Linked DNA regions of Homo sapiens: region 2 is linked to region 1. The links come from fine-mapping of genetic effects on gene expression. A gene starts in region 1. The other region holds a variant in brackets. All regions are shown on one strand. Distances are from middle to middle.

Region 1 (2,999 bases):
TCCACTCAGGCCGTGCCCAGATGGCCTTGCACCTTCAGCTGTGGCATCAAACAAAACTGGGAATTGCAGCTTTACCACTTATCTCGCTGCATAAGCTTCCACAAGCAAGTTACTTACTGTTTGTGCTTTTAGGTTCTTAATATGTAAAACAATGTTTTACATTAAAAATTAAATGAAATAGCTCCTGAAAAGCCCAGTCACATTGTCAGAGCTCAGTAAAAATGTGTTCCCTTATTCTAGTACTGGGGCAGAACACCTGCAGGTTTGTAGGTGGGGAGACAGTGGACAGAGTGGCTGGGTGATGAAGTGGGGCTCTAGAGGATGAGCAGAGATTGCCTCTGAGCCGACACCCTGGCCCTGTCAGTTCCCGTCCTCACATGATGGACATGAAGGGAACACGAATGAAGCAGATGATGATACGGTTAAGTAAATACCACCTGGGACCAGAGAGAGCCCTTCTCAAGGAGTCGCCAGCCCAGAGTCGGCCCTCTTCTGAGCTGGCCGGCTGGAGTCAATCTGCTTTGGACAACACAGCTTCAGATGGAGATAATACTGAGGCCAATGATCCTTGAAGACAAAATAATCTCTGGGCTTCTTTCTGCTCTGATTATAATGTTGCAATTATACTGAGCAGATGCTGATAGGAATTTGGTCAAATCCATCCCGTCTTCCATCTAACTTATTTTAGTGCCTGGTGGATTTCTGTCCAGCTCCACGGGCTGTGGCAATGCCGGGGCTGGCTGGAAGTGTGGAAGGGGCTGGCTGGAAGTGTGGAAGAGGCTGCCCGGGCTCCGGCATCAAGAGGTTTTCTCCGGTGGGGAGGAGTGCGCGATCTGATCCTTGGAGCGCTTGCAACTGTAGCCCTCCCCCAGGGCTCTGCGCTGATCTCCAGGGTCATCATCATAGTAACAGTAAGAACTTCATTTTATAGCATTTTTCAATCTGTAAGACAACGTCGTGTCCTTTATACCGTTGAAATTTCAATTTCACGACTACTCAGATGTTACGCGACTTGCTCAGTATCCAACACTTGGTTCCTTCACTGGCTCCCGGAGACCTGGGTGCTGAAGCCACTGCAAGGAGGTGTGTGCTCGAACACACAGCGAACACCGACTGCGTGGTTAGCAGGATTCGCTGGGGAAGAGGCCTCAGGAGAGTGCTGGAATTTCCAACCTTCGAGGTGCTAGTAACGTGTGTCGAGGAAGGGGTTGGAGAAGGGGAGAAAATGAAAAGAAGGGGAGAAAATGAAAAGATGGGGAGGAGGAGAAATGGTTTGGGTTTGGTTTTGGCTTGAGCCTCACCCAAGCGTCCCACGCCGCAGCTCCGCGGCCTCCTGGGGGCGCCCGCTCGCGTTGCCACGGCGCTCGCGCGGAGCCGCAGCCCGCCCAGCCAGCAGCGCGCGCTCCTGCAGCCCCGGCGGAGTCCCGGCGGGGAGCGCCCGCGTAGGCAGGCACCCGGGGCAGCCCTCCGTCCTCGCCGCGCGGCCTGAGAACCCCTGGGCCCTGGGCGAGGGGGCTGGGCTGTGCAGCCCCCGAGGCTAACTGGGCGGGATCGCAGCTGCAGGGGTTGTGCGAGCAGCCACGGCGGCACCTGTGCCCTGCGGGCACCCACCCTGCCCCTGCCGAGGCAGGCGCCCACCGCCGGCGGTGATGCGGCTGTGAAGCCCTAGTCGGTGAGTACCCTCCAGTCCCCCTGTGGGCGAGCGAATCTAAATGACAAGGTTATGTGTTTTGCTGGATGTCTTCTAAGAATCATTTATTTAGATTGCTTATGGTGGGGAAGCGTTTCCTTTGTGACATCTTTGTGTTTCTCGGATCTATTTCGTTTCCCTCTAAACGCAGCCCTCTCTCCCCTAGTGGGAAAGACACCCAGTATCCGTGTCTCGATCATCGCACGACACCCACCAGTGCGGATGCCACGTACCACACACTCCCCAGAGCCTGCCAGAGAGCAGGGCTGTCTCCCAGCCACGTCCACCCCATTTTCATTGTGCTTCTATCCCGCAGGCAAAGGAAGAGCGTACCCAGGCACCCCCGAGGTAGGCCAGGTGTCAGGACAGCCAGCAGGCCCTTGGCGAAGCCGGGTCCGCTCTGGCTAGCTCAGCGCGGTGAACCCATGAGCTCATTAGGAGCAGCGGCTGCTTTGCGCGGGGAACGCCGGTTTCCCTGCGGCAGAGGGGCCCTGCACCCGCCCGCGGCGCGCGGTGGTGGCCCAGGACCAGTGGCGCACACGCTTGCGCTCCCAGGCTGCAGGGCGCGCTGCGCCGGCGCAGCTCCCGGGCGTGTGCAACAAAAGGACGGCCAAGTTCATTCCCTCCTGGAAGCAGAGGGCGGGGCCGCATGACTTCTGGAGGCTGCATGTGTCTTAGAATCAAATGGTTATGACTCCATAGCAAAATGCTTTCTGTGTGTCAAGTCCTCTCCGTGCCTGCCAACCCCTTCCCTCCTCTCTCCTCCCTAAAATGCTTTCTTATTGGTCTGGCACTGTGATCAACTATTTAGAATTTTCATTGTAAAGAAATGAAAAAAGGGTGAAACCGAGACAAGCTGTAGGCTGAAAGGCTGGGCCCTGTGGTGCTATTCATTAGCTCTCAGGCCTGGCTGCTGGGGAGATTTTTAGAAATCCTGCTACCTGGGTCCAATCCCTGGAGATTCTGACTTAATTGGTCTGGGATATGGCCCAAACACTGGGATTTTTTAAATTTTCTTTTTGTGGGGAGGAGTGGTGGTGGGAAAATTTGGAGTGCATACTGGATTTTTTTTTTTTAACTTCCCAGGTGATTCTAATGAGCTAAGATGGCCACCCACCATTCTAATCAATCAGGGTGACATTTTTCCAGGTGAACTTGGTAATAGTTCAGTCTCTCAGGCTGCCGTTGGAGGGCAGGGTATGCAACTGTCATAAATGCCTACAAGCTACAGGCAAAGAGAGCTGGCAGGGCCTTGGGCTGCTCCAAGAAGCTCAGGATGAAGGCAGTGTCTCAAACGAGGGAGGGATCA
Region 2 (2,812 bases), 26 kb after region 1:
CTTCTCAGGTCAGAAATCCAGCCCCAGATTGTTCAAGTCTTATAGTGAGTTTTTCTTGTGCTCCAGGTTTAGAAGTTTTAAATCTCTTTTATAGTGTATTCAACAGCTTGAGTTAATTTCATAATTATAGGAAAGACATGGTTTGTGTGTTCCTCCTGTAAAGGATACTTTAGAACTCAGACCTGGTTCCTCAGTCAAGGCTGTTTATTTGTGTTTACAGCGCTAACATTTGAAACGTCTTAAACTTGACTGCATATTGTAATTCCTCCCCCCAAACCCCCACCTGGGATGATCCTGTTCCGTGGTGGTTATTCCATGGTGTTACTAGGTGTGGAAGAGAAAATGGGCTTTGGAAATAATGTACGTGAAGAACTTAGCACAGTCCTTGGCACGTAGCAGATGTTCAATAAACATAAAAGTAAATTTTTCCTCTCTTCCTTGGGTTTGAGAGACCTGGGGATGATGATATTGGATGCAGTTTTGGTTGCATGCTCCGTTTTTAAATTAGGGTAATGAGGTCCCCCCCATTCCTCCTCCCACTCAAACTTCCAGCTCTCCAGACATTTCTGTGGTAGATTAAAAATGAAACTCACGTCTTGGTCCTAGAAGTAAAAATAAGGAAAAATTGAGCTCTTCTTCCTGGATCATGTGTTGCCCTTTAAAGGAAGGATGGCACATGCCCTGGAAGAGTGGTACACCATTCAGTACAGAAGAGCAGAGGGTCAAAGGGGACCCTTTCCTGCATCTGTCGAGTAGTCCTGCAGGTGAGGATTTTGGTTGTCGTTGGTTTCACATGTCCAGGTGGAACCAGATGAATTACCTAATTTCTCCTGGCACTGGCTTCTGGGAAGTGGCCCAGATGGTCGAAGCCTGACCATTGGCAGAGTGCTAGCTTTGCTGGGCCGTGCCTCTGAACTGGGATCTGCTAGGAGCAGCCATTTGCCTTCTCCGTCTTGTAGCAGGTTCCATGTGAACAGACGAAAAGGGCATCAAATCTAATGTTCTAGAAAAAATAAGAGCCATCATTGGCTTATTTATGTTCCATAATATTATGGGGCCTGGCATTTTAATAATAATTATGCTCTGGGCCCGGCGCGGTGGCTCACACCTGTAATCCCAGCACTTTGGGAGGCCAGGCGGGCGGATCACGAGGTCAGGAGTTCAAGACCAGCCTGGCCAACGTGGTGAAACCCTGTTTGTACTAAAAATACCAGCTGGGCGTGGTGGTGCGCGCCTGTAATCCCAGCTACTGGGGAGGCTGAGGCAGGAGAATTGCTTAACCGGGAATTGGGAGGTGGAGGTTGCAGTGAGCCAAGATCACGCCACTGCTCTCCAGCCTGGGATACAGAGCGAGACTTCATCTCAAAAAAAAAA[TA/A]ATAATAATAATAATTATTATTATTATTATGCTCTGGATTTACTACTTAGTTGCTTTTTACTTGAGGAAGTGAAAGCTTTTTCATGACCTGTTATCTCATTGATTCTTAATTGTCTCTGAAGTCGTTAAAGTTTAATAGAGTCTATTATTCCCATTTTATAGGCAAAGAAATGGAGGTAACATGATTTGCTTTAAGTTGCAAATGAGTTGGTCCCTGAACTGGGATTTGAATTGGGTTCTTCTTCTTCTTCTTTTTTTGAGACGGAGTCTCTTGCTCTGTCGCGCCCAGTCTGGAGTGCAATGGCGCAGTCTTGGCTCATGCACTCTGCCTCCTGGGTTCGAGCGATTCTTCTGCCTCAGCCTCTCAAGTAGCTGGGACTACAGGCACCTGCCACCACGCCCTGCTAATTTTTTGTATTTTTTAGTAGAGACAGGGTTTCACCGTGTTGGTCAGGCTGGTCTCGAACTCCTGACCTCAGGTGATTCACCCTCCTTGGCCTTCCAAAGTGCTGAGATTACAGGCGTAAGCCACCACACCCGGCCCAGGTTTTCCTTCTTAAGTTTCACTTCACTGAGACCTTTAGGGGGAAAAAATCCACACATCTTTTTCTTTTTTCTTTTCTTTTTTTTTTTTGGAAGCGGAAGGACTTAAAGATACCAGATCATTGTGCTTTTCTGATGACTAGGTAGTGGATGATAGTTAACATTTATTGAGTGTTTATCTGCAGGAATCTGTGCTAGGTGCTGCATAGACATTACCTCATTTATTCCTCACAACAACATTCAAGGTAGAACTTATCATCCCCAGTTTTACGGATGACAAGGTTTTGTGAGGTCCTAGGTCAAGGGAGTGATAGTGAGTGACAAAGCCTTGACTGAAAGCAGGGCTGGGTTCAATCCTGGGCTTTCTGATTCCAGAGTGTGTGCTCCTCCTAACCCGTGTGCTAACGGGCCTTAGGGATGACTAATGGGCAGGCCTGAGAGCCCTGACGCCTGCTGCTGCCACCACCCCAGGTCTGATGGGAGGTGGGGTTGGACGGGCTTTATGTTCTATTGCAGTACAATTTTCACATTCTGGTCTTTTCCTTTGCTAGAAGCATTCATCTAGCCAGGTGGGGGGTCATTACTTTAGAAAAAATAATCAGAGCTGAGAAAACGTCTGCATTTGCAGAGAATGAAGTATTTAATAAGACCAGATGGGCCGGGCGCAGTGGCTCATGCCTGTAATACCAACACTTTGGGAGGTTGAGGTGGGCAGATTGCTTGAGCCCAGTAGTTTGAGAGCAGACTGGGCAACATAGCTAAACCCCATCTCTACAAAAAGTACAAAAATTAGCTGGGCGTGGTGGTGTGTACCTGTGGTCCCAGCTACTCTGGAGGCTGAGGTGGGAGGATTGCCTGCGCTCAGGAGGCCGAGGTTGCAGTGAGCTGAGATCA

What was found. PIP is the estimated chance that this variant, and not a neighbour inherited with it, causes the effect.
Region 2: its variant is fine-mapped to the expression of MICAL3 in whole blood (INTERVAL, PIP 0.99).

What each region holds. Positions count from the first base shown.
Region 1 is chr22:18,022,954-18,025,952 of GRCh38, reverse strand. MICAL3 (microtubule associated monooxygenase, calponin and LIM domain containing 3) reads left to right here and starts at 1,392. Exons shown (of 32, transcript NM_015241.3): 1 at 1,392-1,672. RefSeq lists a silencer at 1,255-1,664.
Region 2 is chr22:17,997,126-17,999,937 of GRCh38, reverse strand. The region is part of intron 1 of MICAL3 (microtubule associated monooxygenase, calponin and LIM domain containing 3); the gene reads left to right. Among named protein-coding and RNA genes, the nearest start is that of MIR648, 18 kb to the right of the region's middle. The variant TA/A (reference allele first, on the strand shown) is at 1,375.